Regions from separate parts of the Homo sapiens genome. Here regions 1, 2, 4, 5, 6 and 7 are each reported to be linked to region 3. Evidence: microRNA targets listed by miRTarBase, many of them from high-throughput screens and not tested one by one. Region 3 holds a microRNA gene; each other region holds the end of a gene's coding sequence.
What was found. The annotated mature microRNA hsa-miR-140-3p reads UACCACAGGGUAGAACCACGG and lies in region 3 at 2,552-2,572, shown strand. An mRNA with a match to its seed (bases 2 to 7 or 8) in the 3' UTR can be bound and repressed. Matches are read on the target gene's strand: a 7mer-m8 pairs with bases 2 to 8, a 7mer-A1 pairs with bases 2 to 7 and ends in A, and an 8mer does both.

Region 1: miRTarBase lists GPC1 as a target of hsa-miR-140-3p. The part of its 3' UTR that is shown has no 7-base or 8-base seed match.
Region 2: the mRNA of SERTAD4 is a reported target of hsa-miR-140-3p. The part of its 3' UTR that is shown has no 7-base or 8-base seed match.
Region 4: the mRNA of GRAMD4 is a reported target of hsa-miR-140-3p. Seed matches in the 3' UTR shown: 7mer-m8 at 646-652.
Region 5: miRTarBase lists CXCL6 as a target of hsa-miR-140-3p. The part of its 3' UTR that is shown has no 7-base or 8-base seed match.
Region 6: the mRNA of CLDN7 is a reported target of hsa-miR-140-3p. The part of its 3' UTR that is shown has no 7-base or 8-base seed match.
Region 7: the mRNA of ZBTB21 is a reported target of hsa-miR-140-3p. Seed matches in the 3' UTR shown: 7mer-A1 at 1,573-1,579.

What each region holds. Positions count from the first base shown.
Region 1 is chr2:240,465,483-240,469,548 of GRCh38, reverse strand. GPC1 (glypican 1) reads right to left here. Exons shown (of 9, transcript NM_002081.3): 8 at 3,901-4,066; 9 at 1,473-3,491. The coding sequence ends at 3,259. It also overlaps a transcript of ANKMY1 not described here. Among named protein-coding and RNA genes, the nearest start is that of GPC1-AS1, 11 kb to the right of the region's middle.
Region 2 is chr1:210,241,935-210,245,989 of GRCh38, reverse strand. SERTAD4 (SERTA domain containing 4) reads right to left here. Exons shown (of 4, transcript NM_019605.5): 4 at 1-4,055. The coding sequence ends at 3,653. Among named protein-coding and RNA genes, the nearest start is that of SERTAD4-AS1, 10 kb to the right of the region's middle.
Region 3 is chr16:69,930,591-69,934,656 of GRCh38, forward strand. It overlaps MIR140 (microRNA 140), which reads left to right and starts at 2,491; the gene lies at 2,491-2,590. It overlaps WWP2 (WW domain containing E3 ubiquitin protein ligase 2), which reads left to right. Exons shown (of 24, transcript NM_001270454.2): 14 at 562-637; 15 at 919-990; 16 at 1,212-1,300; 17 at 3,380-3,539. RefSeq lists a silencer at 3,072-3,262.
Region 4 is chr22:46,676,732-46,680,797 of GRCh38, forward strand. It overlaps GRAMD4 (GRAM domain containing 4), which reads left to right. Exons shown (of 19, transcript NM_015124.5): 19 at 416-3,054. The coding sequence ends at 520. Among named protein-coding and RNA genes, the nearest start is that of GRAMD4, 58 kb to the left of the region's middle.
Region 5 is chr4:73,837,062-73,841,115 of GRCh38, forward strand. CXCL6 (C-X-C motif chemokine ligand 6) reads left to right here. Exons shown (of 4, transcript NM_002993.4): 2 at 1-35; 3 at 142-225; 4 at 562-1,699. The coding sequence ends at 580. Among named protein-coding and RNA genes, the nearest start is that of CXCL6, 2.4 kb to the left of the region's middle.
Region 6 is chr17:7,256,756-7,260,810 of GRCh38, reverse strand. It overlaps CLDN7 (claudin 7), which reads left to right. Exons shown (of 4, transcript NM_001307.6): 3 at 85-169; 4 at 275-908. The coding sequence ends at 437. It overlaps ELP5 (elongator acetyltransferase complex subunit 5), which reads right to left. Exons shown (of 8, transcript NM_203414.3): 5 at 3,773-3,954; 6 at 2,128-2,223; 7 at 1,885-1,985; 8 at 874-1,240. The coding sequence ends at 1,126. Among named protein-coding and RNA genes, the nearest start is that of CLDN7, 3.7 kb to the left of the region's middle.
Region 7 is chr21:41,987,405-41,991,470 of GRCh38, forward strand. ZBTB21 (zinc finger and BTB domain containing 21) reads right to left here. Exons shown (of 3, transcript NM_001098402.2): 3 at 1-4,066. The coding sequence ends at 3,491. Among named protein-coding and RNA genes, the nearest start is that of ZNF295-AS1, 20 kb to the right of the region's middle.

The DNA of each region.
Region 1 (4,066 bases), not on the chromosome of region 3:
CCACGGCTGGGCTGAGCTGCTCAAGGGAGGCTGACTGAGGGGCTGCTCTCTGCCCATCAGTGTGGGTGGGTCAGTTTGTCTGTGGCTTCTGGAATTCCTGTGAGGAACCGAGAGGGACTGAGAGCCAGCCCTGGCTGGAAGGGGTCTCTCCCTGAGCAGCCTCTTGGGGCAGCACTAGGGTGGGCAGAACTTGGGAGCTCCCTGGTGGTCTGAGGTGTGGCCGGGAAGGCAGGGCTGAGACCAGCCGGGTGCCCCTGCCCACCCACTCCTGGCGTGGTGTCGGCTCTGCACAGAGTGCACACGCACCTGTGTCCTCCTTTCCCTGACATGAAAGATGCATTTGCCCAGGTTCAAAAAGGGCTTGTGGAAGTCTTGAAGCAGCTGGGCAAGGTGGTGCCTGGAAGCCTGAGATCCTGCCGGCTGGACCAAATGCGTTGTCCACAACTACAGCCGCTGATGAGTGTCTGGCTGCTCACCTGTCCCCTAGGGGCCCCGCTGAGCCCCCAGGCTGCATCCCCTGGCCCGCCACGGAGAGGACTCCACCCCACCCTCATTTCCCAGGGGAGGAGCCGGGCCTCTGGGACTTGCGGAGGGGCCTGCAAGTGAGGACCGTGGCTACCAGGGACCTGGCGGCTGCAGATGCTTTGTGGGAGGCCTGTGTGCAGCCCTTCGTCCTGCCCGGAGCTGGGACCTACTAAGCAGTGGAGTTCAGCAGGGCTGGGTGGAGCTGCATCTCCCTCCTGGGGTGCCCACCCACCCCTCTGTGCTCTCACGCTCACAAGGGGCCTGGAGGTCCCAGTTGCTAGGGGGCCCTCTATTCCTGGGTCCCAGATGATGGAAACGCAATGTTAAAAATGTTCACCAGACCAACCTGTACTGGCTGCAATTCTCAATAAAGCAGTTGAGGGACACACCCAGAACAGTGGGCGCTTCTGCCAGTGCCGCCGTGCCACTTAGCCTCTGGCCATGACCCCACAGGAACAGGAGCGGGGCTATAGGGAGCCCCTAGGGTTATACAGGACCCTCCGCCTCGAGAGAAAGGTGGCTGGGGACAAACTGGACCACCAGGGCATCCTTGGGACAATGCTGGTTCCTTCTCTCTAGCCCCTTGGGCATCTCTGAGGCCACCTGGCAGGAACCAGAACCTTCCAGGGGTAGAGGATCTCTGTGCTGTGTGTGCCCAGAGCAGGGGCAGGAGGCAGGAAGAGGTAGATGGGAGGTGGGGCCTGCTGGAGGCCATCTGGGTCTCCGTGCCCTGGCCTTTTCCTTCTCCCCTGCACCAAGGAGAGGGGCGGACAGACCGGAGTCTGTCCAGGGCAAGGTGGAGCTGCAGACAGGCTGAAGGGCGCAGCTGGCAGGGGCTGCACGTTCACCCCAAACACGGAAGTGTGGTCCATGCCCAAGCCCCAGACAGACAGACACACACACACATACGCACACATTCTCTCTCCCCCCGAGGCCTCGCCCTGCTGTAGGTTTCCAGCCTTTTATTCATACAAGGACTCAAAAGAACACACGTCACCCGCTGACACTGAGCGGTGGGGGGACCTTGTGGAGGAAGGACACAGCAGGCTTGGCCACTGCCCTGACCAGTGACCACTCAGGGCTGCCCCTTCCAGAGATGAGCGTAGGGTGGGGTCTGAGCGCCACCCCTAGGCCGTCTGTGTGCAGCGGGAGTGCTGCTGTCCTGGCGCCCGGCATCACTGTGCCAGAGTCCCCAGCCCACCCTGGCACTGGCAGGGTTATTATGGGGTGGACTTGCCTGTGTTGGGGGCTCCTGATCCCAAAACATCTAAAGTCAGGTTCCAGAGAACAAGCCATGGGGACCTGACCAGCAACCGGGGACCTCCGTCCACTGTGCGGGACGGTGATGAAAAGCAAAGCAGCACTAAGCGGCCTCCTCAGGGTCAGTCGGTTCAGGACAGCTGCCCCCAGACCCTCCAAGTCCTCCTCCCCCTGCAGGACCCCTTCCCAACACCACACCACCCCTCCCCAGGGCCGCCTGGCAGCTGGGGCACAGGAGGGAAGGAGGGCCCGTCCAGGCCTGGGGCAGGGCCCTGATGGCCTCAGTGAGTGACAGGAGGTCACCAGGGTCCAAGGTGGGCCCTGCGGCCCTCCGAAGCCATCTGGGAGGAGCGAACAGCTCTCCATGAACAAGGACAGGAAGTGTCAGTAAATGGATGCATGTTTGGAAAAGCCCTTAACTATCCAGGTCCCCGTGCCCTGCAGCTGGCTGGGTCGGGAAGGGACCTAGGCATTCCCGTCTGCAGTGCGGGGTCTCACCAGCCACCAGCATCCCTGTGAGCAGGTGACAGCTGAGGGTCACTCTGAGCCCTGACCTGTGTCACCGTGAACAGGGAGGCCCTGGTTCCTGATCTGGGTGAGGATGGGAGCAGGCGGGTCCTGGCTGCTCCTCAGCCCTCGGGGTCCTCCAACAGCCCTGGACCCCAGCAAGGCCTGCCCTGTGAGCCCTGTGTGCGAGGGGCAGCCCACATTGGCAGAGCCCACGCTGCCTCCCTGGGCCTTTGGGCCCAGCTTCCCCTCCTCCAGCAGAAGCGCAGGTGGGTCAGTGGCCCCTCATCTGCGCATGGAGGGCCCCTCACTGCAGGTCTGTGGGAGGACAGTCCTCAGACTCCTCAGCAGTGGTGCTGTCTCAGGCGTCACCCTGCAGACGCTGGGGCCCCTCAAGGGCGCAGGGAGGTGGGGCCGGGCTCTGCAGCCTGCGCTGAGGGGAGGGCATCATGCATCATCTCAGAGGCTCTGCCAGACCCTGGATGGCGGACACCCAGACAGCCCGTGCGGGGCTTCTCTGGAGGCTGGGGGGTGGGCCAGGGCTGGCTGGTGGGCTCTGCTGGGAGTCCCAGTGGGAGGAGGCGGGGAGGAAGGCACAGGCTCGCTGTGGGCTCCAGCGGGTTGCTTTGAGGCCTCCTCTGTAGGCCTCGAGGGGCTGCTTCTGCGGCGGTGCAGGGAGCTGGGGGGAGGGCTAGGCAGCCGGAGGTGCCCCTGAGGTCCCTGAAATACATGGCTTTTGGGCACACTGGCTCCCAGCTGACCTGAGGACCTCATACAAAATTAAAAGGCAGAAAGGCAGGCGAGGCCAGGCCTGGGGCTGGGACCTCTGCGCCTGCCCCTGCTCAGAGCCGCCGGCCCTCCCTGTCCCACCCCAGGCCTCTCCAGGCTGAGGTGAATTAAATATCGTCTGTGTTGTATTTTTGGCAAAGTCAGTCCTTGGCCTCTGTCCCTGGGGCCTTGGGGCAGTTACCGCCACCGGGGCCTGGCTACTGTAAGGGCCAGGAAGAGGAGGAGGGGCAGGAGGAAGGTCGGGGGCTGGGGGCAGCTGGCAGCCGAGGTCTTCTGTCCTTCCTGCTCTGACAGGCCTGGGAGGGCATGGGTCAAGGGCGTCCGGGAGCTGGAGCTCTTCCTGCTGACCTTCCGGCTGCAGAGGTCATCCAGACAGCCATCACCGCTGCCCGAGCCGCTGCCGTCGTCACCTGGGAAGGAGAGGAGGCTCCGGCAGGCAGGTCCCCACAGGAGACCCCAGTGCAGCACCACCCTGTAAGGGCCCGTGCCAGGTGACCCCAACATCCTTTCGGTGTGGAATCCCAGGACCAGCAGCACCTGATCCCCGCTGACCCCTGAGGCTGGGAGACTCTCACTCCCTGGGGCTGCCTCCCTTGGTCCCTGGAGCCAAAGCCAACAGACATCCCGGCCAGGCCTCCAGGGCGCCGCAGAGGTGCAGGGCTCGGTGATCGTGCCTGGGCAGCACAGCGTCCTCAGACTCACTGTGGTGATGCCGGAGCAGAGGGCCCCTCGGGTGGGGGAACCCGGAGGGCAGTCACACCCCTGTGGCACCCCCACCAACCCTGGCCCCTTGGCCGCCCGGCCAGGCCCTGCCCTCACTGGCGTCCTGGAAGTCCACGTCGTTGCCGTTGTAGGCGCTGCGCAGCCGGTTGGTCATGATCTTCAGCTGCATGATCTGCTGCCGGATGGTCATGTCCGGCTTGGTGATGTCCACCTCCACCTCGGGGTTGTTGATCTGGTTGGCCAGGCCGTCACCCATGACCTC
Region 2 (4,055 bases), not on the chromosome of region 3:
AAGGGGCTGTCAGAAAAATGGAATTTCACAACTAATTATTTCCAAAAAAGTCTCCTGCTCACCATTTGTTAGAAGGATATAAAAACCTAGCTGCATCACATAGGAATCCTTGTATCCTTGTCTTATATTTGTTGCGAAGTTGATGTCTCTTAATGGTCATGTCTTCTACAAGTTGTCCTCTGCTCTGCTCCTGATACACAGAAAGGAAGTCACCAAGTGGAGCTGTAATACAAGTTCATAACTGGAGGGGTGGGTAGCCATGTCTTGATGGAGTTAACTATGAGCTCTAAAAATAAATACTTTCATTCCCTTGCTTCACCATTTAACAAAGAAGCATGTAAAATGTTCTAAATTTCTGTTGTCTTAATAAAAGGTCACGCCAAAGATGCTTTCCCCTAATTTTCAATTCATTGCCAGGTAGTGGCATCTGCTGGTTTTGAATTTTTCTGTCTTCCTCCCATGTCCCCTGTCCCTGCAATCCTGTCCCTAGGACCCCTGCAAAGTGAAATGTAGAATAATAGGATTTTGAGTGGAAAGATGATGATGAGACTTTTGCCCTTTGAAAATCCCTTTGCCAGACCACCTTCTATAATCTGCTGTTTTTAGAAAGGAAGGACCAGAGACAAAGGTTAATGATTTCATTAATGATATGCACCCAGATGCCTAGGGGAATAGCAATTAAAGGCACTCTTGGGGAGCAAGGCAACTTTCTTAAATGAAGATTTCCCCTCATTTATCTTTTAATAGTCTTGATTCTGTCATATCAGGTTTTCCTTAAAGCAGAGCACAGCAATGAGAGAAGGTGCAGCTTCCAGGCGCGTAGATACCAGTGTGGGTGGAGGATGTCTTAGCTTTTCCAAGTTGCTCGAGATAAAACTATAGAATCCAGTTAAGAGATATAACTTACTATGAAGGGTGTCCTGGCCACTCTAGGAAAATCTAATGGAATATCTCATGCATAAAAGACAATGCTGGGTGCATGGGAGGTGAACACAGGAAGTCCTAGCACTCTCGCCTACTAACAAGAGAATTTTTGTGGTTTGGATGGGTGTTTAGGAATTAGTGTTTGGTGAAGAAATTTTTTTTTGCAATGCTAGAAATATCCTGGAAACAAAAACTTGATGACTAAAAAGAACAGATTTTTATGCTGCTGGATTCAAAGGCATCACTTATCCTACAGAGAAGTGATTCTAGTGGGTTCTACCGAACAGGTGCAGGCGCTCACAGCTCAGGTGAGTGCTGCTGAAAATCACCAACTTTGTCATTTTACAGCTTTGGCCTTCAAGAAAAACACTATCTAGTAATGCTGGGGCTTTTAAAAAGCAGAAGGATAAGTCCTTTCGTTCATATTTAAATCTCCATGAGATATTACACTCATAATAAGAATGCTACATTTGACAAATTAATTAGTTTTTAACTAGCTTTCCCCTTTATCAAATATTAGCTCCTAAGAACATTAATATGGAATTGTATGGAATGCTACTAGCAATAATCTGTAGCTGTTATAACTGTTTACATATGGGTCATCTTCACAGTTTGACAGTTCATAATGCAATCAGCTAAGATTCAGTATTTATGGCTTCGTGTTATACAATTTTTTTCAGAGACACTCCAGAAAGGAAAATCTTTACATTCTTTCAGACATAACCTTATTGATCACCACATCATCTATTAACATTGTGCTTCTTAATCAATAGAAACTTAAACTTACGAACTAGGATCATTCTGAAACACCTGTCAGATTGGCATTTTAAAATACTCTTTAATTTAGAAAACTCCTGTGTGGCCACTATCCACTACAGTTTCTAGATGTTTTGAGTTTTTTAAAGGAGAGAGAATAATGGAAAAGAGAAACATAGCCAATAGCCATTAAAATTTAAAAAACTTAATGAATTTTTATCATCTTAATAAATATATATCAAGAAAACCTCACTTTATTACAACACATTCATATACAAGCATCTATTAGCTAAGTTTTGAACATCAAATGTTTATCAAATATTGAAAATAAAGGACAAAACATTACTAGACTATTTAACTATAACACAAGAAAATGTTTTAAAAATTGGTCTTTGTGGACAATTGTCCAAATGATCCTACTCATACACTGTATGAATGAGACCTATATTTAATATTAATAGCAATAATAAAAAAAGCTTTATCTTGGAGAAACTGGGAGGGCTTACTTATTTCCTCCGTTTGGCATTTGGTTTCTGTGAAGTATTATTTGAACAGGCCCAAGTCAATTAGTAAACTTGGAAACTGGAATACAGTTTAGCAGGAAGAGTTGGCTGGAGTGGAAGGAAGGATGGTAGGAGGGCCACTCTGAACACTTTTCAAATGTACAAGTTAAAGATATTATTTGGAAAATGTAGACCAAATACATAGTAACTATTATAGATTAAGTCCCATTTCTCCAAAATAACTTTCAAAAACCTAAAGTCTTTACATTCTTTAAGATAAACCTTATTGATCACCACATCATTTATTAACATTGTGCTTCTTAATCAACAGCAAAGTTCATATATAAAAACCCACATGCTTTTATAATCTAAACAAGTGAAATGATGCAAAACAGAGAAAAGTATAATGCATGCCACTGGTTCGTGAACTTCATTGGACAAGAAAACAAAACAAAACAACCCAAAACCCAGAAAACCCCAACCCCAGCAACACACAGTTGCCATAGAAAAGCTCGAGCAGCCCGTGCTGCTTTCTAACAGCTCTCTCTCTCATTTCCTCCATCCCTATTGAAAAAACGGCGAATCCAAAAGCAATTGGGCATCAAAAATAAAGAATAGAGATGTCGAATCAAAAGCTGAACACAATAGTTCAAAGTTAACAGTTTCCAAACCATATTGATCCACCCTGTGGTTTTTTTTTTTTTTTTTTTTTTGTCCTGTTTGTTAAATCCCTGCTGTAACTCTGATTTATCCTTAATTTTCACATTGGCAAAAATTAAGATAAAAGTAAGGCACCAAAAATCGCCCTGTATAACACCTCTCTAAAAGCCTCATCACCCATCACAGGCAAGCCAGAAACTTGCAGGGAATACCCTCTCTGTGTAAGACTGTTGATTGCCGCCCCTAGACAGGTGTGTTTCATTATGTTACATCCTATTTTCATCTGTCACACAAGACTGTTAGGTACAAATACTTAACAGCACCATTAAGCCATTTCATCTAGCTCCCTGTCTTTAGTCTTTTATTTAAAAAAAATATTGTATCATATAGAAGAAGCAGGTATCTTTGCTGGTTATATTGATTTGCTTACCAAATAACTCCCTAATTAACTGGCAAACATGTAGAAATTTCTTAGCTAGTGACAGGCTCCTTGGGGGGCAATGGAAATATTGCAAGGGCACATTGTCCCCCAATCTCATCTACTGATCTTTTCCGTAAGAAAACTATGATATACTTTTAAGCATTAAGTCAATCGTTTCCTTGGTAAAAATCACCACATTTATAAGAAGCTCGCTGATGCCTGCTATACAGATGTTTTACGCAATCTGCTCTCCAGGCATTAAAACGACATGGCATGTTCATGGCATAATTTTATCTGTTGTACAAAACTACAAAATCCATTCAAAATAAAATTTACGAGAGCTAACTGATCATGCTGTGCATGCTTCAAAGTTCGGTGAGAAGATGGCTCATATTTTACTTCCTTTGCTGCAGCACAGTTTGTTACTTGGTGGTGAAGCCTCCTTTTTCCGTAAGGACTTTTTCCAAGATTCATTTACATTGTTTCTTTCATTATATCCGGTCTCAAAATAATCATAAAATTGGCCTTTGCACTCAAAAGCAAGGTCATTTCCCACAGGTTCGTGGCTGAGGGGGCCACCATCTCTGTTGGTGTCATCATTTGCTTTCTCATCATTTAATTTGGCCTTTTCCTGAACACCAAGTGATCTGACATTAGTGACAAAGATTTCATTGGCAGGTATCTGGCCATCACTCTTGTAAATAGATGCACTACCTACATCAAAATCCACCTGGCGGGAACAACTCGGTAAAGGCAAAGGGGGAGAGGAAGAGGAAGATGAGGAGGAAGAA
Region 3 (4,066 bases):
TAGGAGGCTGAGGTGGGAGGATCCCTTGAGCTCAGGAGTTTGAGGCTGCAGTGAGCTATGATGGCACCACTGCACTCCAGCTCAGGTGACAGAGTGAGTCCCTGTTTCTAAAAAATAATAATACATTTAAAATTAGCTCGGTGTGGTAGCACACTCCTGTAGTCCTAGCTACTTGGAAAGCTAAAGCGGGAGGATCGCTTAAGACCAGGAATTCGAGGCCGCAGTGAGCCATGATCACACCACTGCACTGCAGCCTGGGTGACAGAGCAAGACCCCGTCTCTAGAAAACGAACAAACAAATAAATAAGATGGGATGGGGAGGAAGGGACTATCCTGTTTATTCCGAATGACACTAGAGTTATTTCTCTAAAAGCAAGAAGTCTGGCTTTATTTCTAGATTTTCTTTTTTATTCTTCAAGGATCTTAATGACAGTCACTTCCTCACCTTACATTACTAATCTTTAAATTAACATAGCACCAGCTTTCCTTAGGGCTGACAAAGACAAATTGTTCATTTTCTGAGAAATCGCATGAACCCCTGAACATCTTTGCTCTTCCTAGGACGAAGCAAGGTTCCCCTGGTGCTTATGACCGCAGTTTTCGGTGGAAGTATCACCAGTTCCGTTTCCTCTGCCATGTGAGTTCTGGTACTGGGGCTCCCGTGGCAGTTGGGGTTATTGAGTTATTTCAGTGTGAGTTCCCGGCACAGCAGCAGGTATCGGAATGTTTGTGTCTTAGGCGGGCGCAAGACACTTGTCTAACCCGGAGCTGGCTGTCTCTAGGAAGCTAGTTTTCATTCCTAGGGCACATGCTATTGCCTCCTGGCCCAGCAGGCTGGGGAATGCCTGTTCATACAGACAGGAGAACAGATGACCACTTGAGGCTCGATTTAAAGTTCTTTTCTTTTTTTTTTTTCAGTCAAATGCCCTACCTAGCCACGTGAAGATCAGCGTTTCCAGGCAGACGCTTTTCGAAGATTCCTTCCAACAGGTTAGATCATGGTGCCCGAAACCAGTGGCAGGCCGACGCCCTCCTCCCAGCACCCCATCTCCTATCGCGTGGCCTGTTAAACCCACACTGCAGACTTTCCAGGGCGTGAGTCTTGGTGACTGTGTCTGCTGGATATTGGGCCTTAGAGTCCCCTGTCCCTCCCGCCCCTGCCTGCTGTGGAAGGGAGAGTGGCAGGCTGGCCCGATGCTCTGTCTTCCCAGATCATGAACATGAAACCCTATGACCTGCGCCGCCGGCTCTACATCATCATGCGTGGCGAGGAGGGCCTGGACTATGGGGGCATCGCCAGGTGAGCTTGAGTGCCCCGGAAGGCTGCCCTGTACCCCGCTTCCCCAGGCTACAGCATCAATGGCCAGAAAGCTGCCTGCCCCCTGCTCACATTCCCTCCCAAAGCTCTCATGCATCTTCAGGAATGGGCACAGTGTGGCATTCAAAATACGTGAACCCGCCAGGCGCGGTGGCTCACGCCTATAATCCCAGCACTTTGGGAGGCTGAGGCAGGTGGATCACCTGAGGTCGGGGGTTCGAGACCAGCCTGACCAACATGGAGAAACCCCGTCTCTATTAAAAATACACAATTAGCTGGGCGTGGTGGTGCATGCCTGTAATCCCAGCTCCTGGGGAGGCTGAGGCGGGAGAATCGCTTGAACCTGGGAGGCAGGAGGTTGCAGTGAGCCGAGATCGTGCCATTGCACTCCATCCTGGGCAACAAGAGCGAAACTCCATCTCAAAAACAAAACAAACAAAAAAACAAAATACGTGAATCCATGTGGCCAGTCCATTGGGCCTGGAACAGGGGCCTGGGGTGCCCCACTGGGCTGGACATTAAGCCTTTAGTTACTGGGTCATGAGGCGACGGAGGACTCCTGGGAGGGGCGAGAGCTCAGTACAATGGCTCTGTTATCTACCAATGTGTCATGTTTCTGTACTTTAACAACCAGGCCAGCAGCATCTGGGCAGTTGAATATAGGGGCCATGTGGTCATCCATTAGAGTTGACCCTGGGATCCCCTCCTCTTAAGGCAGCCAGGGCAGGTGAAGTCAGGTGTCCCCGTGTGGATAAGCTGTGTCACGATCCACAGGGCCTTGAGCAGGGCTCAACTGCATGTCACATGCCTGGGGTCAGTAAAACTGTAACGGCTTATGTCACCCTAAAAAGAGTCCAAAGCATTGTCTTGCCTTCACCCTGGTCCACCCATAAAAGTTAACAGGCCCTCTGGGAAATGCTGCCTTGGACAGCAGGGCAGAAGGGCCCCGGCAGAGAGAGAGAGCGCTGTGGCCCGCAGCGACCTCTCCGCTCGAGACCTCTCCCGGTGTGGGCATGTCTTCCCGCTTGGTGTTGGGTTAACTTGCTTCTGGTCCTCTGTTCGGTGGTGGCGTTGCCTTCTGCGCTGGCCCCGTGGATGGATGTTCCTTTTTTCCGTGGTGACCTCCTCTCCAGGCTCTGCTTGGTGGGCTTCTGGTGTGGCCGCGCCCTGTGTGTGTCTCTCTCTGTGTCCTGCCAGTGGTTTTACCCTATGGTAGGTTACGTCATGCTGTTCTACCACAGGGTAGAACCACGGACAGGATACCGGGGCACCCTCTGCGTCGACGGACTCCTCGTCTGCCCAGCCACAAACAGCCCAGCAGCTGGGGACTGGCCCCCTTGGGACATCCCCTTGCTGGTTTAGCTCAAGCCCAAAAGGACTCTGAATTCATGCCTGAGGCTCGCACCCAGGGCACGGGTGTTGGTTCAGATGAATGCGTGGAAGTGTGGGAACGGGGATGGTGTTGGGGTCTGGGGGTGAAGGGAGGGCAAAGTGCAAGAGTGTTGCATAGCTGGTGGGCATGAGGTTTCTCATCTGAAGGCAGCATGGATTACATTGTCATGGATCGGGGTTGGAAATGTGTTGCTGTGTATTTACGTTATGTTGCCCGCCCAGGTAGAGTGGAAACAGGGTAGTTACTATTCAAACAGAACCTTTGCAGAAAAATTATTGTAATAAACATGCATCGTGCCCTTGTGCAGTGCACAGCCTAGGCAACTGAGCATGGTGACCCAGGGTACAAGGACCCCCTTTACCATTAGAAGCTCTGGATATTGTGATGTAAAGTCTTGGAACACATCACCTGGGAGCCGACAATCACACGTTTTCCCAAATATCATCCTCAAATGCAGTTGCCGCCCTGGTTCACTGTAGGTCTGAGCCTGCCCTGTTCACTGACCAGCTGTTCATATAGGTTAGCCCGGGTGCTTGTCACAGGGCTCGACTCCCTGGGACACGTGTCCCCATACTAACCTGAGACACGATGGTGAAGAGACACAGCTCCTGTGCAGATGTGCACGAAGGGACCCATTATTCTTGTCTTTTCTGTCTCTTCCCTCACAGAGAGTGGTTTTTCCTCCTGTCTCATGAGGTGCTCAACCCTATGTATTGTTTATTTGAATATGCCGGAAAGAACAATTACTGCCTGCAGATCAACCCCGCCTCCTCCATCAACCCGGACCACCTCACCTACTTTCGCTTTATAGGCAGATTCATCGCCATGGTAAGGGGGCCCCAGGGGTCTGCCTAGTTCCCTCCTCCTCTCCCTCCTCTTCCCTCTCCTGGTGAAGTGTGCCAGGGGCACCAGGGGAATCTGCTCTTTCTCTGAGACCTCCAGGAAGGGGCAGCATTGGAGGAGGCCCTGGGCCTGTTCACCAGGAGGCAGCGTGGCGTGAACGGCAGCCCCCGTGGACTGGCTCACCCTCTCGGGGCTCCACCCTTTGCCCCCATAGAGCTCGTAACCTAAAAATGCAAGAAGCTAGAGAGAGTTCTGGAGAAACCAGAGCTTTCTCAGTGGCTGCCCTGTAGGTAGTGAAGAGTTTCCATGTTGCTTTGTACAGGACTTGTCAAGAGGGAGCCCAGGGTCGCTGGGCCACAGACTTTACTGAACATTAAATATGTGCTCTGTTGAGGGCCTTGGGATGACAGGGCCAGGTGAAACCATAGCTGCCCACCTGCTGCCTGTCTCTGGGAGGTGACACTGTCACGGCATTTGGGAATGTCCCACTGAGACACTAAGCCTTCTGGAAG
Region 4 (4,066 bases), not on the chromosome of region 3:
CCCTGGGACCAGCGTGGGGCAGACAGCCAGAGTTTTAGTTTGGGCAGCAGGGTCACAAAGCCGCCCCCTCCCTCGCAGCAGCTAGAGCCTGGGGCTGCGTCCAGGTTGGGTTGGAAATCTTGCTGGGGCCATCGAGTCACCGGACAGACAGGGATGTTGGGCACAGGGGTCCCCTGACTCAGTGACTTGGGAGGAGGGAGGCACGGGGCTAAAGCCTGGCTCCCCTCTGCCTCTTGGCTCTGTTCCCCTGAAGGCTGGAGCCTGGCTCCGGGTGGTGGGGAGACACCTGTCTTTTGCACCCAGACCCACGTGACTAGCGTGCTGGCCTGGGGCTGGTGTTGGACTTCGTCTCGGTCCTGGTCCTGGCGCCAGCCTGGCTGTGCCATGCTCACTGGTGGCATTTCTTCCCTGCCAGCCGCTCGTGTTTGGTGCCATGGTGCACAGGGATGAGGCCTTCGAGACCATTCTCAGCCAGTACATCAAGATCACCTCAGCGGCAGCGTCTGGCGGGGACAGCTAGTATTGACTTGCCCAGGACGTTGCTGGAATTTTCTTTTTCTTTTTCTTTTTCTTTTTTTTTTTTTACGATTTGGTAGTGGAAACAATTGGACATCCTCATGAGCTTTTGCAATAATTCTCCTGGACCTGTGGTTCTATTGTGTTGACCTCTGCGTTTTATCGACCAAGAAGGGGCCAGGGCTCACAGGGACGGGGGTGCCCCTCTCCCACAGGGCACGTCAGGTGCCTCTGAGGGCCACCCGCAGACTGGGGGAGGGGGCAGAGGCCCTCGGGGGCCCGTGGAGAAGACACACAGGACCCCTGGCCCTGCCCTTCTCCGTTCCAGCCTGGACAGAGAAACCTCTCCAGCCACCCCAAGAGGTTCTCGCAACCTTGTGTCCCGCTCTCCAGAGGCCAGAAGCTCGTCCACCACCAAAGCCATAGCTGAAGAGTGCGGGGCCCTTCCTCCTGGGGACAGAAAGATGTCGTCAAGGAGGGACATGGGGGCCTTTCACCAACCACCGAGAAACGGGCCTGGCGGCCCTCCTTCCTCTTACATGAGACCCTCCTGTGGCATTTGCCCTTGGTGCCGGGCTGGGGCCGGGCGCAGTGACCCTGCCTGCGCTCCACACTCGCTCCACGGGAACAGAGAGGGTGAGAAGGGCCCACCCCTCGCCTGCCCTCAGTGTCTTTGGTGGCACCTTCCTTGCTGGCCTCCAGGGCGCTCAGCACCGCGTCTGTAAGGGCCTGCCTGCTGCTCTCGGCCTGACACGCCGGCCAGGAGGTCTGTAGCTGGGGACCAGTAAGGGCACAGGATGGTGCAGGTAAAAGCACATCTTTCTCACACTTTGCTCTTTGGAAGGCCCAGGAGAACATCCGCGAAGGCTGTTGGAGGTGCTCCGAGCACTGTGGCATGTCTGGCACATGGCCCCCAGGCTGCGGTTGCCTGGGTTGGTTGGGGGAGGAAGTGGGGAGGAGTGTTCCGGGACCATGGTGGCCCAGGCTGCAGCCGCCTTTGGGCCATCCGAGAGGCTCTGGCAGCCCCTGTGCTTTAGGGAGCAACCGTGAGCCGAGCCCAGAGGCCTGGGCCTGCACTGCCTGCAGCCGACATGCGACAGCGTTCCCTCCCCCGCGTGCCTAGCCGGTGCCGGTCCGGGCACAGACCCCCCCAGCCCCCGCCCTGCCCCAGGGAAGCCTGGGCTTCCCGGGAACAAGGTGGCATTTGTGGAGGGAGCGCCCGCAGGCCTGGTCTGCTGGGGCCGCCTGCGCTGGGCTGAAGGGAGGGAAAGGCGGCTTGGGCCTCCTGGAAGGAGGTGGCCACCCCGCGGGCCTGCGTGTCTGCTGGGGCGGATCCCGCAGCTCCCTCAGCTTGTCCTGAGTCCCTTGGGTGTCGTTGAGATTGTTGTTTTTTGAAGAAACAGAAGATTCTATTTTTTACAGCGAGCAAGCTGGTTTTCTTATTTTTGTATCCTTTTTCAGATGTAATTTTTATCTTTGCTCCGATCCTCATTTGCTGGTGTGGGTGAGGGATCCGGCGGCATGGGCTGGTTTCACCCCCTTCACGAGGGGCCGCAGAGTCACACGCTGGTGCCGGGGGTGCTTTGGGGGGAGCTGCGCCGATCACCAGATTAAGCACATGTCCTATCCCAGGCGGTGGAGCGGAGCCCCCGTGGCTCTGGACTGCGCGGACGTTGGCGTCAGGATGACCACACGGCGGCCTTTCCCGAATGGGGACAGAACCCGCTCTGAGCCGTGGGTCTGGCTCCTGTAGGGGACTGGCTCTCTTGGTGCACCAGGGGAGGGGGACATATCCCAGTGAACCCCACCTTGGCGCCTGAGGCAACACAGGGTGGGCACTGACCCACCCCCAGGGGCGGCTGCAGAGGCAGTGCCCGCAGACAATGGCCACACCTCTCTCCCCAGGGCCCGGCAGTGCCCAAGGATGGGTCCGGGGCCTCGGGGCCAATGAGCGCCTCTTCCTAGGTGCTGGGATTCAGTCCCCAAACACAGCGGGAGGGGTCCCTGGGGCAGATGGGGCTTTACCAGCGTCGGGTGGTTTAGTTCGAGTCCCTTTTGTGGAGAAAGGGAGATGAAAACTGACCACGTGCCAGGTGTGGCCGAAGCCCCCAGGGAGGGCCACATTCGGGGAGCGGGGGGTCGGGGGAGGGCCACCGACTGGCTCTGCTGCCAGCACAGGCCCCTCCCTGGAAGTCCTCGGGAGCGGAGCGCGGATCGGCACGGGCTCTGGGCTCCCCGTGGAGAGAAGCTGTAGTTTTTACCAAATTGTGTACATCTGGGCAGATGTTTAATTTCTGTGACTAATCACTGAACTAGACGAATGTTAAATTTTTTATGTCTGAAGCCTGAGTCTATTTTGGATCTGTAAATAATCATTGCCAGTGTGACTTTTGTTCAACAAAAGGATTGTACTGTATTAAGAACCGATGAAAAAAATTCTCCTGTAACATTTTTTTAAGAAAACTTTGTTTGTTTAAAGAAAAAGTATTGTATAAATTATAATTTTTATTTAAATAAACCTAAAATGCTTTGTGCTAAGGCTCAGGGCTGTCTGCCTCCTTGGCAGGGCCACACGCATTGTAGGCGGCCTGAGCCAGCTGGGCCACCAACCCCAGGCCCTCAGTGCCGCTGCCAGCCCGCCACTCCCTGGGGCCCCACGGCTGCCGGCGGCGGGGCGTTTGGGTACTGATGCGGCCTGAGTGACGGCTGTGGGGTGAGGTGGGGCTGAGAAGCAGAGTCCTGTTGGACGTGGGCATTGGAGGCTGGGAGCAGGGGGCAGGGCCTGAGTTCCAGAAGACAGGAGGCCAGGTGGCGAGGGACGCGGCCTGCAGGGAGGGTACCCAGGGCTGGCACAGGGCGAAGTGGGGGAGGTTGAGGCAGAGGCAGTGCCTTGGGGTCAGGGGGCATGCAGGCTTTGGCCCCTCTCCACTTTGGTGTCCTGGCTGCCTGGGGGTTCTGGACACAGGGGTTTCCAGCAACACTTGGGGCTTGGTCCATCTGGATGCTGAGACTAGACACAGAAGGGTGCAAGGACCTGCCTGGCTTTTGAAACCCCTGGAGTTGGGCATGAGCCTGTGCCAGGTGCACCTGGTGCTGCCTAGCCTCCTGTGCCTCAAGCCCACAGGAGCCCCCTTGGAGGCAGAGACCTCCCCAGGTTACACAGCAAGGGAGCTGGAGCCAGGCGGAAACTAGGTCTAGTGGGCCACGCCACCCTAAGGGGCACAGCTTCGGAAAGTAGGACATATGCGTACTCCATCGACATAGCCAGCCACTGATCCATCCATTCATCCACATCTGTCCGTCCGTCCGTCCGTCCGTCCATCCATCCATCCATCCATCCATCCATCCACCCACCCATTCATCCATCCACCCACCCATTCATCCCTCCATCCATTCATCCATCCACCTACCCACTCATCCATCAATCCATCCACCCACCTATTCATCCACCCATCCATCCATCCATCCACCCACCCACCCATCCATCCACCCACCCATCCATCCATCCACCCACCCATCCATCCATCCATCCACCCACCCACCTATCCAT
Region 5 (4,054 bases), not on the chromosome of region 3:
CCCGCAGGCCCGCAGTGCTCCAAGGTGGAAGTGGTGTAAGTTCTCCTGTGTTGCTGTGTCCACTGTGACTTAGGCAAGTCCTCCAGCCTGGGTCGTCAACCTTTGTGGCTCATGGGTGCATCCTCTTTTTCTTTACTTCAGAGCCTCCCTGAAGAACGGGAAGCAAGTTTGTCTGGACCCGGAAGCCCCTTTTCTAAAGAAAGTCATCCAGAAAATTTTGGACAGGTATTTGTCCCTTTGATCTTTGTGGTGTTTTAATATCTTCTATGGAAAGCATATACTTCACAATGTCCTTATTCTCTCTGTAGGATTTAGACTATGCTTAGAATTATAAGGTTGTTAAGAAGAATAAGGAAACTTTTTTTCTGGAATGTTCTGGGTAAACCTTTATCACCAATCTTACATGCCTGAACAATTACACAGAGCTCATTACTGACATCTATTTTTTGTCTGCTCTTTGCTTTTATTGATTTTTTTCCCCCACCAAACGCTTTTGAAAACCAAATGTAGCATACAAGAGTGTGGGAATTGGTTATACTAATATAACTCTTTTCTCAACAGTGGAAACAAGAAAAACTGAGTAACAAAAAAGACCATGCATCATAAAATTGCCCAGTCTTCAGCGGAGCAGTTTTCTGGAGATCCCTGGACCCAGTAAGAATAAGAAGGAAGGGTTGGTTTTTTTCCATTTTCTACATGGATTCCCTACTTTGAAGAGTGTGGGGGAAAGCCTACGCTTCTCCCTGAAGTTTACAGCTCAGCTAATGAAGTACTAATATAGTATTTCCACTATTTACTGTTATTTTACCTGATAAGTTATTGAACCCTTTGGCAATTGACCATATTGTGAGCAAAGAATCACTGGTTATTAGTCTTTCAATGAATATTGAATTGAAGATAACTATTGTATTTCTATCATACATTCCTTAAAGTCTTACCGAAAAGGCTGTGGATTTCGTATGGAAATAATGTTTTATTAGTGTGCTGTTGAGGGAGGTATCCTGTTGTTCTTACTCACTCTTCTCATAAAATAGGAAATATTTTAGTTCTGTTTCTTGGGGAATATGTTACTCTTTACCCTAGGATGCTATTTAAGTTGTACTGTATTAGAACACTGGGTGTGTCATACCGTTATCTGTGCAGAATATATTTCCTTATTCAGAATTTCTAAAAATTTAAGTTCTGTAAGGGCTAATATATTCTCTTCCTATGGTTTTAGACGTTTGATGTCTTCTTAGTATGGCATAATGTCATGATTTACTCATTAAACTTTGATTTTGTATGCTATTTTTTCACTATAGGATGACTATAATTCTGGTCACTAAATATACACTTTAGATAGATGAAGAAGCCCAAAAACAGATAAATTCCTGATTGCTAATTTACATAGAAATGTATTCTCTTGGTTTTTTAAATAAAAGCAAAATTAACAATGATCTGTGCTCTGAAAGTTTTGAAAATATATTTGAACAATTTGAATATAAATTCATCATTTAGTCCTCAAAATATATATAGCATTGCTAAGATTTTCAGATATCTATTGTGGATCTTTTAAAGGTTTTGACCATTTTGTTATGAGGAATTATACATGTATCACATTCACTATATTAAAATTGCACTTTTATTTTTTCCTGTGTGTCATGTTGGTTTTTGGTACTTGTATTGTCATTTGGAGAAACAATAAAAGATTTCTAAACCACTGATGTTGTTTCTCCTTCTTATACAGTTACTATTTATCTTTAATTCTACATTATTCAAAATATTACCTCTGCTCTTCTCTGGCTGGCAGAGAGGGCCCTCATTCCCCAATACCATTGCATTGGTTCAACTTTTCTCCATGTTCAGCCCCCTTCCAGTTACTCCTTCACAGCACCAATAGCCTCTGGGGTCTTTAGAAAACACAAATAGGATAAGATTTTCCTATCTAAATTCTTAAATGGCTCCCTGTTTCCTAGACATGAAATAAAAGTTGCTAAACATGATGAATGAGGTTCTGTCTCATCTCACTCCTGATCATCAGTACTTCAACTTCCCTTGTGCCTCACATTCACTATAGTCAGGCGTTCAGTTCCCTAACTAGGCATGTTCTTTCCCCAGGCTCATGACTTTGTATTTGCTAGGGTCTCTACCTGGAAAGCATTTACGTTTTCCTGCGTATAAGAGGAGGCTTATTCATCCTTCAGAACTCAGTTCAAGCAATATCTCCTTCGTGAATTTTCCTTGGCACACTCAGCAAAGCTTGTGGTTTGCATCTTGGTGTTCTCATAGCATCTTCTAGACATCTGCACTACAACAAATATATTCCATTGCTTTTATTTGTTTATAGGTTTCTTCATCTAACTGTATTAAGAGCTCTCCTAGAACATCGACCATATTTCATCCAACTCTGCATTCCAAATGTGTGGCATGGAATGACTTAATGAATTAATAAGTTATCCTGACCCTCAGGTAGTCAGATGTTATACTAAAATCAATAATCTGGCTCATGGTAGATTTTGATTAAATTGTAATTTGTTCACCTTCTTTTCTCCTTCTTGTCTACAGGTAATCCAACAGGGCTTTAGCATGTGTAATCCACCCACCCCTCATTTTCACTTAGCTACCTCCCATCTTTCCTTCCTTTGGGGATAGCTTACATATCATTTTCTTGATACAATCTTTATAACTCTTACTCCTCCCAGATTAAGATCCCTTTTATATACTGTCATAGCACTCTGTACTTTTTATTCATAACATTTTCTCATGAAGGTGACTTTAGAGTTTATAGAGCATATAGACATGTGGTCATGTGTTTAGAGTCTATCTATTCTAGCTTCACTGTAAGTTCTATGAGAGCAGGGACAATGTTTATCATCTTTATCTCAGTTCCTGGTACAATGCCTAGCACATAGTGTATATTTAAACAAATGAGTGATCTGGTTAAACAAGTCTCTCTGTTTCTCTAGTATTAAAAGTGTCGTTTCATATAAAATACCTGTTCTTAGGAAAAGCAAGAAAATGAAACGAAGAAGACTAACCGAATTAGTATGTGTATACATACATTCACACTGCAGCTGGATTAATATATTATATATGTTTATATTGGCACGTACTTGTATACTTTAGTATATCTAACCTAGGCTTTCCTGTATGTTTTATCTCTCTCTTTATATATAAAATATAAATTGGATTAATATTTTTTAATTATTATATATTGATATATTTAAATAACAGAGAGAGAAAGAGACACAAAGATATGAAAAAACTTAAAAAGTAGCTTCAGAGATGGGTTTTCTAATCATTTTTTCAACAATAAAAAAGTACAAAATATCTCTAATTTTTTAAAATGCATTAAACTTCTGTGGTCTCTTTTTGCTCTCTCAAATGGTATTTTTTTTGAACTTATGGATGATACAGTAATTCTGGGGAAATACTAGAAAGCAAACCAAATTACAAAAATGAGCTCTAAATTTCAGTGTTTAAAACAATCCCTGCTATGTCACATTAACTCCAAAATACTTATTGAAAAATGCTTGATTATAAAAGATTAAAGAATATTAAATGCCCTTTGTACAGGTGAAATATAAGCTTCATAAGGAAATAAACATTGCTGGTTAGTTTTTTGTTTTTGTTTTTTTTTTTTGAGACCAAGTCTCACTGTCACCCAGGCTGGAGTTCAGTGACACAATCTCGGCTTACTGCAACCTCCGCCTCCCAGGTTCAAGTGATTCTCCTGCCTCAGCCTCCCATGTAGCTGGGACTACAGGCATGCACCACCACGCCTAGCTAATTTTTTGTATTTTTAGTAGAGATGTAGTTTCACCATGTCGGCCAGGCTTGTCTCAATGGTTTTTTGTTTGTTTGTTTTTTTGTTTGTTTGTTTGTTTTTATCATCAAGCTCTGTTTTTTTAAGAAGCAACACTTGTAAGTTTAGTTTGTTCATAGAAATAGAATGAAACATGATTTCTAATATTCTTGCAATTCTAGTTGTCAGGCCCATTCCGCAAATGGTCACTCTATAGAGAAAATAGATTACAGTATATTACTGAAGAGTAACCTATACAAGCAACTCAAT
Region 6 (4,055 bases), not on the chromosome of region 3:
GGGTTCTCCCATCTGGGAGGAGCAAGGCTGGGCAAGGCGCCCATTTGGGGCCTCACTATACTGAAACCCTCATTCTGTCTCCAGGTCTTGCCGCCTTGGTAGCTTGCTCCTGGTATGGCCATCAGATTGTCACAGACTTTTATAACCCTTTGATCCCTACCAACATTAAGTAAGTCTGGGAACCCTGCCTCCTAAGGGGACAGGTCTGGGGTCCTGGAATAGGGAGGAGGGCAGAGGCACGCCAGGGTTTCTAACCACCCCCTTCTCTTCACAGGTATGAGTTTGGCCCTGCCATCTTTATTGGCTGGGCAGGGTCTGCCCTAGTCATCCTGGGAGGTGCACTGCTCTCCTGTTCCTGTCCTGGGAATGAGAGCAAGGCTGGGTACCGTGTACCCCGCTCTTACCCTAAGTCCAACTCTTCCAAGGAGTATGTGTGACCTGGGATCTCCTTGCCCCAGCCTGACAGGCTATGGGAGTGTCTAGATGCCTGAAAGGGCCTGGGGCTGAGCTCAGCCTGTGGGCAGGGTGCCGGACAAAGGCCTCCTGGTCACTCTGTCCCTGCACTCCATGTATAGTCCTCTTGGGTTGGGGGTGGGGGGGTGCCGTTGGTGGGAGAGACAAAAAGAGGGAGAGTGTGCTTTTTGTACAGTAATAAAAAATAAGTATTGGGAAGCAGGCTTTTTTCCCTTCAGGGCCTCTGCTTTCCTCCCGTCCAGATCCTTGCAGGGAGCTTGGAACCTTAGTGCACCTACTTCAGTTCAGAACACTTAGCACCCCACTGACTCCACTGACAATTGACTAAAAGATGCAGGTGCTCGTATCTCGACATTCATTCCCACCCCCCTCTTATTTAAATAGCTACCAAAGTACTTCTTTTTTAATAAAAAAATAAAGATTTTTATTAGGTACGGGGGTGTTCTACTCTCTCACATTACCCCATGTCTTCATCCTACCTTCTGTCCTGATGAGACGCTGCTTCCTGGCTCACAAGGCGGGGCTCCATAGACAAGGGGAACCAAGGTGGGGCAGGGACAGGGTAAGGCTAACACAAACAATAGAAAGATGGTTCTGGGCCCAAAGTCTTCCCGCGCCCCCTCCAATTACAATCTAATCAAATCTGGCCAGTCAAATATCCAGGTCGTCATCTGGGTCTTCTTGGTCCAGGTCATCATAAGCATCTGGCTCATAGAAGATGTGGCTGGTAGCCTGCCCTGGCCTAGGCCGCAGGAGAGCCTGCTGTCTGAGAAGGGAAGATTTGGTGCTGGTGAGGGTAGCTAACAGGTTGGGTCTGGATACTTTCTTCCAGGTGACTGTGACTCTCATTCAGGCAACCTGTTAGGCCTCCATGTCATTTTATTGGTCCAAGTCCCTTTCTCTGACCTCCATGTTAGAGCTGAAGCACCATTTGGTACTGGGATAGATACCCTTGTACTGCTCTCCTAATAAAACCGTAAGTTCCTAGCAGCTTGAGGGCAAGGATCTTGTAGTCTTGCGTCATCCGCCCACATACTGGGCACAGAACAGCAAGCGTGTACTAAGCCCTTGTTAACCAGCCTCTGCCACGCCCATATAGCCTTCTGTCCTCCTAGCACCACTGCCTAGGGATAGGGCCACCTCCCAAGGGTCTGGTCTGGCTCAGCCCAGGCCCAGGGTGCTCTGGGGACAACTGGAGCTGTGACCCAAGGGTATAAGGGAGAGAAAAGAGACATAAAGGTCCTCTGCCATTATAGGGGGAATGGGTGGATCAAGAACTTGGACTTGTCTCTGGAGGTGGACTTCAGTCCCTATAAAGTCAGGTTAATCAATAACCTGTTGCCCCAACCTCTCCATGGCCCAGATGCTGGGATCTACTCAGGGATCCACGTACCCAGGTCCCAACCTTACTTTTCAGAACTGAACTGGAAGGGCAGGATCAGGCTATCTCTGGCTTCTCTCTCTTTCTTGGACAGGTGAAGGTTAAAGGTCAAATGAGTTGTGGGATCCACCTGTAGGTACAAAGGATGCTGCCACTCTGCCCCATCCCTAGAATCCCTGACCCCACCCCCAACCTCTGCAGCTTTTATTTTCTCTCCCGTGACCAGATACTAAACTACATTTCCTTGTTCTGGCCTTGGCATTCTTAGATACCGGGGGTATATGAGGATCGGAGTAGGGCTGGGACTCTACAGAGGGCCCCTCTTGGAGATCCAGGCTGAAGTCCGGAAGGATGGAGAACCACTGAGTCTGGAGAGAAAAAAGAAAAGAGTTTTTTTCATCTTACTGAAGAAACTAGACAGACTCCAGGACCTCACATCCTCAGCCCCCAATCACCTATTTAACTGACTGCTTTCAGCTCCTGCCCTCAACTTTTTTTTTTTTTTTTGAGACAGGGTCTGGCTTTGTTGCCCAGGCTGGAGTACAGTGGCGTGATCTTAGCTCACTGCAACCTCCGCCTCCCAGGTTCAAGTGATTCTCCTGCCTCAGCCTCCCGAGTAGCTGGGATTACAGGCACGTGCTACCACACCCAGCTAATTTTTGTCTTTTTAGTAGAGATGGGGTTTTGCTATATTGGCCAGGCTGGTCTCAAACCACTAACCTCAGGTGATCTGCCCACTTCGGCCTCCCAAAATGCTGGGATTACAGGTGTAAGCCACTGCGCCCAGCCTCTATTTTATTTTCAAAAGTGAAAGCAAGTTGATTAAGGAAGTAAAGGAATAAAAGGATGGCGACTCCTTAGGCAGAGCAGCCCACTTACTCCTTTTTTGAGACGGAGTCTCACTCTGTTGCCCAGGCTGGAGTGTAGTGGCATGATCTCGGCTCACCTCAACCTCCGCCTCCCAGGTTCAAGTGATTCTCCCACCTCAGCCTCCCGAATAGCTGGGACTACAGGCACCCACCACTATGCCCAGCTAATTTTTGTATTTTTAGTAGAGATGAGATTTCACCATGTTAGCCAGGCCGGTCTCGAACTCCTGACCTCACAATCTGCCCACCTCGGCCCCCCAAAGTGCTGGGATTATGGGCCTGAGCCACCTCGCCTGGGCCCCACTTACACTTTATAACCTTGGTAAGTGACTTAAATTTAAACCTCCTTGGGCCGGGTGCAGTGGATCACACCTGTAATCCCAGCACTTTGGGAGACCAAGGCCAGAGGATGGCTTGAGCCTAGTTATTCAAGACCAGCCTGGGCAACAGGGTGAGATCTCATCTGTATAAAAAACTAAAAAGCTGGCTGGATGTGGTGCTACATGCCTGTGCTCCCACCTCCAGCTACACCAGAGGCTGAGGCAGGAGGATCACTTGAACATGGGAGGTCAAAGCTGCCGTAAGTTATGATTGCACCACAGCACTCCAGCCTGGGCAACAGTGAGACCTTGTCCAATAAAAAAAAAAAAAAAAACTCCAAGGGAATAAAACCCTCCCTGGACTGGCTTTCCAGCCTGAAAAATGGTGATAATAAAACAATCTACCTTAACCATAGCTGAGAGGATTAAATGAAGTGAGTGATAGAAAACAGAGAAATACCTAAATCAGCTTTTTTTAAAAAAAGGTCTCACTGAGGGCTGGGCACAGTGGCTCACGTCTGTAATCCTAGCACTTTGGGAGGCTGAGGTGGAAGGATCACTTGAGCCCAGAAGTTTGAGACCACCCTGACCAACACAGTGAAACCCCATCTCTAAAAAAGTTTGTTTTTAAAGTCTCCTTGAAACATCAGCATTTTCATTGTTCTTCCCATCGTGCCACCCCTTTCTCTGTCCCCCGTTTCCAGTCCTTCTCTGTTGGTTCTTCTGACCTGGTCAGTTGGGCGCTGTCGGGGCCTCCGACACAGGATGTGGGCCGAGGCCTGGCCCATGGTACCGCCCAGGGTCACCTCAGTCTGAGCAAGGCTGCTGAGAGCTCCCACAGGGCCTGGTCCATGAAGCTCTTCATGTAGCAAGCCCAGCACACTCACTTTCCCCACTGAGGAGCTGTCACCTAGAGGAGGACAAGAAATGTAGGATAGTAGGGAGCATTCAGGTTGGTGGCCTGGGAGCTAACAGTGAAGAAGAGAGAGCCTCACAATTCCATCACAGTGC
Region 7 (4,066 bases), not on the chromosome of region 3:
ATTAAACTTCTTAAAGTGCTAAAACCACAAAAAGCCATAAATGAAAACCTATTTTTTAAAACTTAAAGTTTAGTAGTCAGTGTTAAAGAACACTTTTAAAGAGTACGTGTCAGCATTATTTAAATCAATAATGCATTTCACAATTATTGCAGAAACATCACTGAGACATCGTAAATTGTCAAACTGACTTGTAATCCAGTTAGATACAATTTATACAGAAATCTATTTGGAATTATACCTAATTACTTTTTACTAAGAAACTTCAAATAATTTTACTTCCTGAAGTTCCAGATTACAGTTGTATACACACATGCATGCATGTGTGTACAAACCCAATTTGAGACAACAAAGGCCAACTTTAGATCTGTTAATTCTTCCATCTCTCCCTCACCCTGATCAGAGAGTTGGCCTTGTAGGTGCATCCACACCGCACCTCCGTGAACAGACACATTTTATTCCTGTTTCACAGCAGCTACTCTCATTAGCACCAATGGGACTACATATGGATTCAAACGGTCACTCATTAAGTGCTGGGGCACATTTTTACAGGCAAGGCTATAAACGTTCCATTCCAAACCAGAAAACCAAGAACATCACACATCTCCCCACAAATGCAAAGAACATCACTGTTGAATTGTTAGTTGTATATTCTGGTAAAATTATAAATGCATACTAACTAGTTTTAAAGGTGAATATTCTACAAATCTTCAAATATTACTGTTAAAATGCACAATATTTGTTACCTCCATTGCTTACTTTGAGTGATAAAAACATGTTTTATGTTACTCCTTCCTTCTCCCACATAAACGATTCAGTATCAAGTTCTCAGATTAACAAAGAATATATTAAAACATTTTACATTCTTTCCACAACTGCATAAAAAAGCAGGCATCCTGCATACTTACATGGAATAAAGAGCTTTCTACATTTTCAAAATTAATTACAATCCTAAAATATATTTACATGAATATCTTCACTAGCTAATGAGTTGCAACAATTTAAGACCAACTTGTTTTACACCAAGTATTTGCCTACTGGCTGAGATAAACATTCTTAAAAAACTTTACTGAATAAAGTAATTAACATATCTTTCATTATTTTACTTCTTAACATTTAAAATAGTTACATGAGTGGAAGCATATTTTTTTTGACCACCAAAATAAACTCTTTCAGCCTAATGCTTTTAAAGTACAGTATAAAAAGTAATAGAAAAACCAGAACGGCATTATAAATGTTTTTGGTTCAAAATTTTATTTGAAATCTTATATTCCTTGCTTAGACAAAAATGTGAAGACAAAACACCAGTCATTTTTAAAATCTAACAGATATGCAGAACCTATGTTTAGATCAAAAATATTTTTTTTTTTTACTGATTAACAATATTATTTTTAAAAAATCTTCGAAAATGTAGCATAAAGGTTTAGGTCCTGGGATACTGAATTTATAATGCCAAGATACTCTGTATCATGGAATTATCACCGATAGATACTCTAATGGCCATGTAGGTGATGATTACTCAGGGAAACTGTCTTCTTTTGAAGTGACAGCTACCAAGATGGACAGAGTAAGAAATACCACATTATACGCGGAATGAATTCAATGTACAATAATCCATCCTGATGTTTCATGTAAACCCATATGCTTTAGTTTTATCCTTAAAATGCATAGATTTCTTTAAGAAAACAAAGATGGCAAGAATCAATAACTGCAATTTATTTTCCCTTCTCCATCAAATTTAAGAAAGAATAGGAAGTTAACTACTAAAATATTGTGGAATTTTGGAGTTTTTTCAAGTGAAAGAATACAAGGCAAAATTTCATATATAATATCCATAATGTACAAAGTCAATCAGTATTTTATAAAAATGTCTGGTTCAATAAAAAAAATGAGAATATCTTTCCTACCACTGGTATGGAATGTTGGCAATAAGATTGATGGGTACAGAGTTATTTTCTGCTAGAGCACAAATCTAAAATTATTTCTTAATGACAGTAGTTGGCTTTTAAAAAAAATTTGAAAGAATACCTCGTAACACAAACTAGAGTCTAAATTGGTATTACTTTCTTAAAAGGATTTTGTAGTTTCGTTTTTTTAATACATCTAACTCCCACCCCCACAAGTAAAAGTTTTCCCTTTTGAAACACATTGAACTTTGGATATCCTACTGAAAGGCTTTCAATTACAAATTATACATAGTATTCTTTGAAAAGCCCAAAACCCATGGAGCAAAATAAGTAGCTAAAACTAATTTTGGACCACTGATAGTGCTCTAATACCTATTTTTGAAATATTAAGCAATGATGTAGAGAATGGCCTTGCCCATGATTTTAACCATCAGACCCCCAACAAATTCTAACAGAAATTGTCACAAGAGAGAGGCAGGAAAATGTATATGTCGTATATATTGTTCTTGGAAAGCATGTTGAAACTGCAGTGAGGTGTTTCTCCTCTGCTCTATCTGGAAGTAAATGGTAATTTAGAATTTTACATCAGCTGTGCTAATTCTTGAGTGTCTGGGATCTATGTAAATATATGTCCCGACCTTATTTGTTACACTAATGTTAAAATCAAAATTAGTGCCATATGGTTAGCTTTGTTTTTTGTCCTAACTACACTCAGATTTTCAATTTGTGACAGCATAAATCAGAGGAAATGAAATATGTGCAGTCCTTCAAATGCTGGTCTGAATTTAGACTGTGGTGCAGTGTACATGTAACATGGTACAAGTTTTTATAACAATGTCTATCACTACTGAAGCCCTTATAAACTGACTGTAGGGGACTTCCATAAATTGTTTTCATTTCCCAGGTCTTCCTTAGAGTTTAACTATCATTTATTATATTGACTGAGAGCAAGTTTTTGTTAGTTTATAAAAATCTAAGTGTTACTATTGCTGATTTAAATTTCTCACAATTTTCATACAAAAAGAAGTTTTACATGACCACAAAATACCAAATATTTATTTTTATCAAGTGTCAGGATAACTTATTAAAGTTGAGATTTATCTTTTATTGCTAAAGTAGTCTAAGATATAAATCAATACTGCAAACTACTCCACTTCTTCCTATTTTGGACTTAAGAACATGGTTAAGATTTAACTAGAACTCAAGTGTCTAAAATAATTAAAAGAAGGAATACTTCGACAGTATTCCACTAATCAATAAAAAACCAAAAACCTCAATTAAATGATTATACTGACACCATGGAATGAGGAACCATGCACACAATCAAGACTAATCCAATTTCAACATTAATGAAATCAAACCATCTTGTTCTTGTAAGGTCCAGAACCACAATATTTTAAAAGCTGTATTTCTAAAGTTAAGGACATTACTAAGTAATTATCAATTTGCCTCCAACTTAATTTCAAGCGTAACAATCTCCAACCTTTATTATTCTTGTTTAAAAAATATTTTGTTTCTTATGACACATTTCACAATTCAGGTTGAAATCTGGGGACTGCCTCCCATAGGTAAAAAGTGTTGGTCTTTCAATTGTGTGTTTGTTCGTGACTCCAAAGACTAAATGCAGTCTTGAATGTCCTGTGGCAAAGTTTACACATAAACTGTCTTTTAAATGTGATTGCTGAAAGGGGTGGGGCATGGTAAAAAAGGGTGTCTGATTCTTGGGGCACAAACAGTTTTTCTGTGGCTGGAGTTGGGTTTTCGGACAGGCCTGTGGGGCTGTCAGGCTCCAGAGGCTGGATCTTGGGCAGTGGTGGTGGCGGTGGCAGAGGTGGTGGAGAGGGAGAGTTTGTGGGAACAGGGCACACCTCAGATTCCTTATGTGCCGATTCCTCTGAAGCCTGAGACATGTGCGATTGGAAGTGACTCCAGAGTCGAAAATTAGTGCGAAAAGCTTTGTTGCACACGTGACAAATAAATGGTTTCACAGAGCACAGAAGCTCCTGGTGACGCTCCAGCTGCTTATGCACCGTGAACATCTTCCCACACTTCTCGCAGGGCCACAGGCTGGCTTCTTTGCTAGGACCCGCTTCTTTGGGGGCTGTGCTGGCCTCGGGTGCCTCTTCTTCAGCCTCCTCCACAGGCTCCTCTTTGACTTGGAT